Homo sapiens: one gene and its partner. The protein of the gene in region 2 interacts with the protein of the main gene of each other region in a biochemical or structural test. Each region holds a gene or a part of one and is shown on either strand. Other genes may lie near its edges.

Region 1 (4,450 bases), on a different chromosome or scaffold from region 2:
TAGGTAATGCGTTTTCCTCTCTGGGTGCCTCCCATTTTCTGGCTCAAGTCCCTGCCCAGGATCAAGCTTGGAGGAGGGCCCCGAGGGAGGGGCCACAGAGACTGGGTGAAGAGCAAGGGTGTTTGTCCCAGGAGCATGGCGAAAATTGCTGCTGGGTGGCCTTGGGAAGCACAAAGGGGACCCAACTAAGGGCCTGATCCTACTGCCCTGGGGGTGTCAGTGCCAGCCCCCCACAAATCTTTTCTGCCCCCCCCAGGAGGCTGACCAGTGTGTGGCCTGTGCCCACTATAAGGACCCTCCCTTCTGCGTGGCCCGCTGCCCCAGCGGTGTGAAACCTGACCTCTCCTACATGCCCATCTGGAAGTTTCCAGATGAGGAGGGCGCATGCCAGCCTTGCCCCATCAACTGCACCCACTCGTGAGTCCAACGGTCTTTTCTGCAGAAAGGAGGACTTTCCTTTCAGGGGTCTTTCTGGGGCTCTTACTATAAAAGGGGACCAACTCTCCCTTTGTCATATCTTGTTTCTGATGACAAAAATAACACATTGTTAAAATTGTAAAATTAAAACATGAAATATAAATTAATGCCCTAGCAGTTCTATCCCCACTGTTAATAATTTGAAATATTTTTCCTCTAGTTATTTTTGTCTGTGCACATTCTAATATGTATATATAAGTTAACATATATTAATATTATTCTCCAGTTATTTTTATCTGTGCACATTTTAACACACACACACACACACACACACACACACATATGTATTTTTAGACGGAGTTTCACTCTGTCGCCCAGGCTGGAGTGCAGTAGTACAATCTTGGCTCACTGCAGCCTCCACCTCCTGGGTTTAAGCAATTCTCCTGCTTCCGCCTCCTGAGTAGCTGGGATTACGGGAACGTGCTACCTTGCCTGGCTAATTTTTGTATTTTTAGTACATAGGATTTCACCATGTTGGCCAGGCTGGTCTCGAACCCCTGACCTCAGGTGATCTGCCAGCCTCGGTCCCCCAAAGTGTTGGGATTACAGCGGTGAGCCACCATGCCCAGTCATATATTTCTTTTTAACAAATAGAATCATAGATCATACATATTGTTTGCAAATTGCTTTTTCTCACTTTCCAGAACCTTGAAATGTTTTTCCATGTTCTAACATGGTGATCTACCTTATTCTTTTAATTTTTCTTATTTAGTTGTCTTTACACATGAAACACATGAATACATCCTTGTGATAAACATTTTCAGTAACATAAAAGTATAAATGTTACAAAGCCAACGTGCCCTTTCACTCAACTCCCTGTCCACCCAGTCTCTCCTGTCTGCTGGGAGAACCACCGCATTGACTTGTGTGTTCACCCTTCCAGGCTCTTTTCTGCACACTTATATAGACATACTACATTTATATTAGGTCGAGTCAAATAAGATTGCTGTTTGTGTAAACCAAAAAGTGTCAAGAGCCTGGGCGCAGTGACTCACACCTGTAATCCCAGCACTTTGGGAGGCTGAGGCAGGCAGATCACTTGAGATCAGGAGTTCGAGACCAATCTGGCCAACATAGCGAGACCCCGTCTCTACTAAAAATACAAAAACTAGCCAGGTGTGGTGATGCTGTTCTGCACTTTGCTTTCCCCCCGACTTGAGGTATCCTTTCTTGTGAGTACAGACGGATCTACCACCTTTATTTTTTTTTTAATTACTCAACCTGTAACATGGATGTAATTTCACTTTGTTTTTGAGGGATATTGAGCTTGTTTCCCTGTTTTTGCAGTTTATTGCAATTGAGCTCCACACACAAGTGAGCCCTCTTTTGTATGCCCCCTAGTGGGAATACAGTGCTGGCAATGTTTATCACAAGGATATATTCATGCATTTCAATTTAAAGACAACTAAATGAGAAAAATTAAAAGAATATGGATCCAGGCTGGGCATGGTGGCTCACGCCTGTAATCCCAGCACTTTGGGAGGCCGAGGCAGGCAGATCACCTGAGGTCAGGAGTTCAAGACCAGCCTGGCCAACATGGCAAAACCCCGTCTCTACTAAAAATACAAAAATTAGCCAGGCGTGGTGGTGGGCGCCTGTAATCCCAGCTATTTGAGAGGTTGAGACAGGAGAATTGCTTGAACCTGGGCAGCGGAGGTTGCAGTGAGACGAGATTGCACCAGTGCACTCCAACCTGGGCAACACAGTGCAACTCCTTCTCAAGAAAAAAAAGAAAAAAAAAAAGAATATGGGTCCAGATCCATATGGATCCTAGATCCAGATCACGGTGTTAGAACATGGAAAAACATTGCAAGATTCTGCTAAGTGAAAAAAGCATTTGCAAACAGTATGTACAGTCTATATTCAGAGGAGGAACTGCTGGGTCATAGATGATATTTCATAGGTATTGCCAAACCGTTCTCTGGAGAAGTGGTATGGGTTTACCCTGGGATTCTTCTATGGAGGGAATAGTTGAGCTCCCGGGCTTGCTCTTCTGGGTGCCCCTCCCCGCTTCCTATCCACCACAAGGAGCTGCAGGGGAGCGGGGCATGCCGGTTCCTTGGCTGGAGAAGGAGTCTCCTTGTGAGGTGGTAGAAGGAGCACTGACGGCCTTGAGCCCAGTTTCTGCCTTTGTCAAATGGGGATAATGACCCAGCCACACCCCTCCCAGGGTTGTTGTGAGGCTGGAAAGGTGGTTCCCAAGAGGGTGGTTCCCAGAATTGTTGATGAGACTGTTTCTCCTGCAGCTGTGTGGACCTGGATGACAAGGGCTGCCCCGCCGAGCAGAGAGCCAGGTTGGCCTGGACCCCAGGATGTACCCTTCATTGCCCTTCACTCCCCCACTGGATGCTGGGTGGTCACTGCTGTAGGGAGGGGACCCCCTGACATATGTCCCTTCCCACCCACTCTTCCACTGTGGAACCTCCTGTCATTTTCCACTTCACCAAGTGACAGAGGACCTGCTCAGATGCTGAGGGGAGGGGACTGCAAGGAAAGATGGCTAGGAAACCCAGTCCCTCCACACCCTAGAGTAACTTGATGCCTTGTGAGGGACACAGGCAAAGTTCAATTCCTTGGAAGTCAAGGGAGACTGAGAAGAGTACAGCTGCAGCACTGAGGGAGTGATGAATTCTTAACTGGGGATGGTGGGAGGCTTCGAGTGGGAGGTGGCATTTGAGCTAGGCTTTGAGAGAGGAGCAGGTATTGCACTTGCATTTAGGTAGAAAGCATTGGGGTGCAAGGTGACACTGGAGGGGGAGGCATCAGGAAATCCAGGATGTCTTCAAAGTTCTGGTGTCGGGGGCTGTTGAGTAAGCACAGGAATAAGGGGGTCAAGTTAGAGTCAGGGTGGGGTCTGACCTGGATGCCATAGGACCTGATCCCCAAGCCACAGGGTGGGACTTGACTGGGCAGTGGGGACCTTTGGAAAGGACTTTGGGGAGAAAAACAGACTGGAGTCTGTCTTAGGCGATCATCGGTCCGTGAAATGAGCATGTGTTACAGGCTTGGTATGTACCAGACCCTGTGCTAAGCAAGGGGGTATGGAGAGGAGAGGGTGACAAGAATATTGGATCAACACCCGGGAGCTCCATCTATCCCAGGATGCACTATCTTTTTTTTATTTTTTTGAGACGGAGTCTCACTCTGCCTGCAGGCTGGAGTGCAGTGGCTCCATCTCGGTTCACTGCAACCTCTGCCTCCTGGGTTCAAGCGCTTCTTGTGCCTCAGCCTCCCAAGTAGCTGGGATTACAGGCACATGCCACCACACCCAGCTAATTTTTGTATTTTTAGTAGAGACGGGGTTTCACCATGTTGGCCAGGATGGTCTCGATCTCTTGACCTCAAGATCCGCCCACCTTGGCCTCCCAAAGTGCTGGGATTACAGACATGAGCCACCGTGCCCAGCCAGATACGCTATCTTTTTATTGAGTGATTGAGACAGGGTCTTGCTCTCTTGTCCAGTCTTGAATGTGGTGGTGTAATCACAGGCTCACTGCAGCCTTGACCTCCTGGGCTCAAGTTACCCTTCTGCAGTAGCTGGGACTATAGGAGCGTGCCACCACGCCTGGGTAATTTAAAAAATTTTTTTTGTATAGACAGGGTCTCACTATGTTGCCCGAGCTGGTCTCAAACTCGTGGGCTCAAGTGATCCTCCAGTTTTGGCCTCCCAAAATGTTGGGATCACAGGAGTGAGCCACCACTCCTGGCGATGAGCCAAGTCTTTTTTTTTTTTTTTTTTTTTTGATATGGAGTCTTGCTCTGTTGCCCAGGCTGGAGTGCAATGACACGATCTTGGCTCACTGCAACCTCTGCCTCCCAGGTTCAAGCAGTTCAAGCAATCCTCCTGTCTCAGCCCCCCAGTAGCTGGGATTACAGGCATGCGCTACCACGTCCGGCTAATTTTTGTATTTTTAGTAGAGATGAGGTTTTGCCATGTTGGCCAGGCTGGTCTTGAACTGCTGACCTCAGGTGA
Region 2 (5,400 bases):
TGCCTGATGCCAGGCCTGGGCATGGGGTGCTATGCACCATCAGTCCACAGGTGAGCCCTGCAGGTGTGGAGGGAGCACGGGAAGGTGTGGGACTGAGCTGTGGACAACACAAGGGAGAAAGCCTTGGAAGCTATTATCTGGGAGGTTGGCAATTATGGGGTGATAACTGGACAACTGCAATATAAAGTGGAATAAGAACCCAGGAGAATAAGAACCCAGGAATAAGAACCCAGGAGAAGAAGACAACTAAGGAGAGGGTGCTCGATGAAAACACAGAAGCCCAGGCCCCTCTCTCACAGGCCCATGCCTGGTTAGCTCTGACACCAGCTGAATAGGAAGCACGGCAAGTTTGAGACTCTCTTGCATAAACCATAAGCCTCAGTGTCAGGGACATGTGCTGTGAGGACACATGAGATGTCAGTCTGTACAGGGCAGATAGGGAACAAGGCATGTTCATCAAACAAGAGCTGCACCTCCCAGCCTTCTGCATGGGGTTTATATACATCTCCCAGAAAGGAAGGAGAGAGCAAAAGTCATGGCCATGAAGGATGCAACTGCTGTTTTCGGGAATAGACAACTCCGAAAAAAGAAACAGCTTCGTGGCCAAAGAGGCTATGAGCAGGCTTCTTAACCAGCAGAAGTTGGCCAGCCTCATCGTGTGGATTATGCTATTTTGGGTTGACTTCACATGCCAAGATGCTATGTGCATGGTCCCATGACATTCATGTTGGAAATTATTGCTGAGATGGTAAGAAGCCAAACCTCAGCAAAAATAGCCATAGGTGCCTCCACTGAGGGGCAATGTCTTCCCTCCCCACAGCATTCTGCTGCTGGCTGGGGCTGCATCCCACTAAAGACCATCACTCTAGGCACTGCCGCGTGGCAACCTGGGCCACTCTTCCTTCTTCCTTTTTTTTTTTTTTTTTTAAGAGTATTGTGGTCAATTTTTCTTTTCTTTTTTTCTTTTTTTGAGACAGGGCCTCACTATGTTGCCCAGGCTGGTCTCAAACTAGCCTCAAACGATAGTGAGATCATAGTGAGGATGAAGCGATCCTCCTGCCAGGAGTAGCTGGGACTACAGGTGCGTGCCACTGCACTCAGCTAAGATCATTTTTAAAATACAAGGTATGACAGTGAAGTCTGAGGAAATTCCTTTGAATAGATGGACAGGCAGAGAAAACGCTTCTAAATCTAGGAAAAGTTTACGAAGTCGGCTGGGGATTCACCAATTGCCAAACCATGAGGCTGCATCGCTGTTTCTGGTTATGTTTCCAAGGTAAGCATCTCTGTAGGGACACTGAGAGGTGACCAGGGGATCATTTCCCCCAGGGACAACTGCCCCACTGAGCCACCTTGACCAGACCCCCTCGAGGGAACAAGGTTGACACCTCCCAAAGACAGTTCTTTACCTTCTCTGGACAACTGACTGACCACGTTGGCCTGTATCTCAGAACCTTCTACAATTTAGATTTACACTGAACCACTGAGGATAGCAAACAGAACCCAGGATTCAGACAGACCCTCTAATGACTGTGGGCCTAAGGCTGAAGTCTTCAAACCTGCACTCACCACTCATGGATGCTACTCCCAGGAACTTTTCCTTAACATCTTTCCTGTTGGCATCTTGTTTCATGTAAAATAGAAGTAAAGTCTGAGATCAAGGGGGTAGTTTGAGTAAAAAAACTGCAGTATTTTAATTTTAGTTGGATAACCACAGAATGTGCTATGCAACCTATAATTTGCCATTAAAAGGAGAATATGGGGCTGAATCACATTTTCTTTAAATATTACATCCCTCGGTGCCCAAAAAGAGTGTTCATTTTAGAGTTAGACTGGGCAAAATAAACACTGGGTCACAAGTGATAGCTTTGGTTAGAAATGTCTTTAGAACAGGCCAGCATGCATGTTGTCAAATGGCAATGCATGGCCTCTTCCCAGGGTCATGTGGGGCCAGTCACAAGGAAGCTGAATTATTCCCAATTGTCCACACAGGCCTGGTGGCAGGAGGTGAGGGGGAAGGCACGATACTCACAGGAACTTTCCATTTGTCTTTGATCCTATCAGGACAATTTGCTCAGATTCTTCCCGAGAGATTTTTCCATGGAACCAAGGCATTTTTTCATGGGCTGTGGTAGCGATCAGCTTCTCCAGCTGAGGCTTCTGACTGATGATGGCCTGCTCCAGAGCCTGACCCTGCCACATGGAGAGCAAAGCAGAGTAAACCATACCGAGGAAAAATGAAAATGATGCAGAAGGCATTTCCAATCTATCTCGAGTCCTGGCATGGTAAAACAGGATCAAAACTTATTCACTCATTCATTCAGTAAATAAAACCAGAAAGACCTTTACACATTACTTAAGTACTTTCAAGTGTATAAATAAAAATAACATGGCCGGGCACGGTGGCTCACGCTTATAATCCCAGTATTTTGGGAGGCCAAGGAGGATGGTTCACTTGAGGTCAGGAGTTCGAGACCAGCCTGGCCAGCATGGTGAAACCCCATCTCTACTAAAAATACAAAAATTAGCCAGGTGTGGTGGCACATGCCTGTAATCCCAGCTACTTGGGAGGCTGAGGCAGTAGAATCGCTTGAACCTTGGAGCCAGAGGTTGCATTGAGCTGAGATCATGCCACTGCACTCCAGCCTGGGTGACAGAGCAAGACTCTGTCTCAAAAAAATAAAAAATAAAAAAATAAACACACATATCCTTTGCTGTGGCAATCCCAACCCTTTCAAAGTTTATCCTGCAGACGTTGCATACAAGTGTAGTATACGATAGGTCTAGAGCAATGTTGTTAGCAGCGTTTATTCATAAACAGCAAATGTGTCCATCAATAGGTACTAGTTAAATAAATTGTGGTGCATAGCAGGTGATACCAGATAGCCAAAGAACGGGTGATGCAACTATATGAGTGTTGACACAGAAAGTTCTGCAAGAGATATTAGGAAGCCATAAAATCAAGTGCCTATCAGTGTGTATGGTAGGACCTTGTCAGATAAACAGAAACCAATCAACACCTATCAATGCCTCTCTGAAAAGGCCCTCCTTGCACTGGGTAACAGTGGTTCCCTGCTGTGGAGAAACCCACACTGCTGGCACAAAGGGACCCACCCTCTCAGCTGTGGCTGTGAAAGAGGAAAGGCTCTTATCAGAGAGAGGCATTTTTTGGCCAAAATTGATGCTTAAGGAGATGGTTGTGTTATTTGGGCACACAGGGCACATAGGCACATGTGTTGCATGTAGCCAGGAAGTCTGTGTGGGGTCACAGGGCCCCCTGGGCCCAGGGAGCAGGACCAGCTGTGGCCCACCTGCAGGTTCCATGTCTGCTTCACATATTCCCTGATGAGGTTTTCCTTCAAATCCTCAAAGGGCCCAGTCTTGGGCTGCACCCCTTGGGGCCGGTTGAAGGGCTTCTTGAGGAGGCAGACCAGGCCATCAGACTCCTGGGAGTGGTAGTGGCAGAGGTCGGCGGGGCTGGCATGGGTCCTGCCACCGGCGATGGCGTAGGTGCCATTCAGCTCCCGCTCGATGGTGTAGTGGTGTGCCTTCCTCCCGTGGGCCACGGACAGGGCGAAGCCACCCAGGTAGTTGCGGCTCTGGCGCAGCAAATAAAGCCCATCACTCATGCCCCCCTGGACCAGGTAATCTTCTGCCTCCTCCCGGGTGATGTTGCCGAAAAAGAAGGGCAGGTGGTTGGCGCTGTCAGCCATGCCGCTGCTGGCCATGCTTCAGGGGCCGGAGGGCACACACCTGCGCAGGTGTCCACCTGGGCAAGACAGAGACAGAGAACTTTGGTGAGGACCCCACGTGGCAGGGAACGTTTGCTAAAACCACTCAAACCCTTTCAAAGTGGAGACAAACCCTCCCATCTCTGAACAAAGGCACTTCCCTCTTTGGCCCTCCCAACACACAGTTGTCTTTCTGTTCACATCATCATTACAGTTTTCAGCATGCCTTCTAACTAAGCTAAAATCAGAGCATTTGATGGAAGTGACCAAATTAAATAATTCTTTTTTGGGGGGAGTGGGGAAAGACAAAGAATTCTAAAAATAAACATACCGCAAAGAGAAGCAAACAGAAGGGCTATTGCAAAACAGGACTCTTGGGCTGACCCTCAGGGTCCCAGCAGCATACAGGAGGCAGAATCTACATGAGAACAAACCAACTGCTCCTCCTGAGTCCAGACAATGTTAGAGAAGCCTTGCTCCTCATCACAGTGATATTACCAAGGAGGACGCTACCACCACCTCACCCACCTGAGCTGCGAGACGCTGCCTCGAGCAGTCAGTCACACGCTGGTGCTGAGCCCCAGAGGTGAAGTGAGGCCACGTTGAGGGCCCACACGGAACTGTGACTTGTGGTCACCATAAGGCCTTCCCACCTCCAGCCCGGGGCTATGATAGCAACAAGCCACTGCCTGAGACATGAAGAGTGACACCCTCCCTGGCTCCCGAGGCCTGGGGCCCATAGGCTGTCTTCTCCCCGCTTCTCCAGACCACTTCCTGGGCAACGCCACTTCCCATCTGCAGGGCCCGTGCTAAAGAGATAGTGCCGGTTCCCAGCCCACGAGGACATCTGACACAGGAGAGACACTGCTTGCAGTAAATAAATACATTTCAGAAGCAAAAAGAAAGGCGGCCAATGCATATTTAACATGGAGAGTATTCCCTCTCAATCATGGTTGTAAACTAGAAGGATACATATTGCCAGCCCCAAAAGTATCCAAGGAGGCACATTTTAACCAAAAGGGGCTGGTCGTGAATGGAAAATTATCTACATGACTCCATCCATTTATCCAGGGAGCAAAGCGCATGTCCCTCATGGTACACACACACACACACACACACACACACACACACACACACTCTCTCCATACCACATGCACACTACATGCATGCCACACACACTATGAACACATGCCACACCTGCACTACACACACACCATGTACTACATGCACACTATGCACATCACACACACCAAACACACAAACTACATACATACCACACACACGAAACACACTACACACATCACATGCTACACTACATACATGCTACACACACAAAACAGACATGAAACACACCACTGCATGCACACAACACACATCACACACACTACCCCACACACATACACATACACACAAACTACATACACACCACACACATGAAACACACCGCACACACCAAATTCTACGTTACATACACACAAAACACACATGAAACACACCACATGACTACATGCGCACTACACACATCACATACGGTACACCACACACCACACACATCACATACACTACACCACACACACACACTCCATACCACATGGACACTACATGCATGCCACACACACTACGAACACATGCCACAGCTGCACTACACACACACCATGCACTACACGCA

The links. Proteins that work in one complex are often made in the same cells at the same time.
Region 1: the proteins of SYK (region 2) and ERBB2 form a complex in vitro, tested with the Homo sapiens proteins (2 studies listed by BioGRID and IntAct, with this or other methods).

The regions. Positions count from the first base shown.
Region 1 is NC_000017.11:39,717,064-39,721,513, forward strand, and holds part of ERBB2 (receptor tyrosine-protein kinase erbB-2 isoform a precursor), read left to right. Parts: intron 1-3; coding exon of another isoform or gene 4-105; intron 106-256; coding exon 257-417; coding exon of another isoform or gene 418-421; exon of another isoform or gene 422-594; intron 595-2,723; coding exon 2,724-2,771; intron 2,772-4,450. UniProt on the Homo sapiens protein: Protein tyrosine kinase that is part of several cell surface receptor complexes, but that apparently needs a coreceptor for ligand binding. Essential component of a neuregulin-receptor complex, although neuregulins do not interact with it alone.
Region 2 is NC_000009.12:90,842,227-90,847,626, reverse strand, and holds part of SYK (tyrosine-protein kinase SYK), read right to left. Parts: intron 3,770-5,400; 5' UTR 3,729-3,769; coding exon 3,312-3,728; intron 2,194-3,311; coding exon 2,033-2,193; intron 1-2,032. UniProt on the Homo sapiens protein: Non-receptor tyrosine kinase which mediates signal transduction downstream of a variety of transmembrane receptors including classical immunoreceptors like the B-cell receptor (BCR).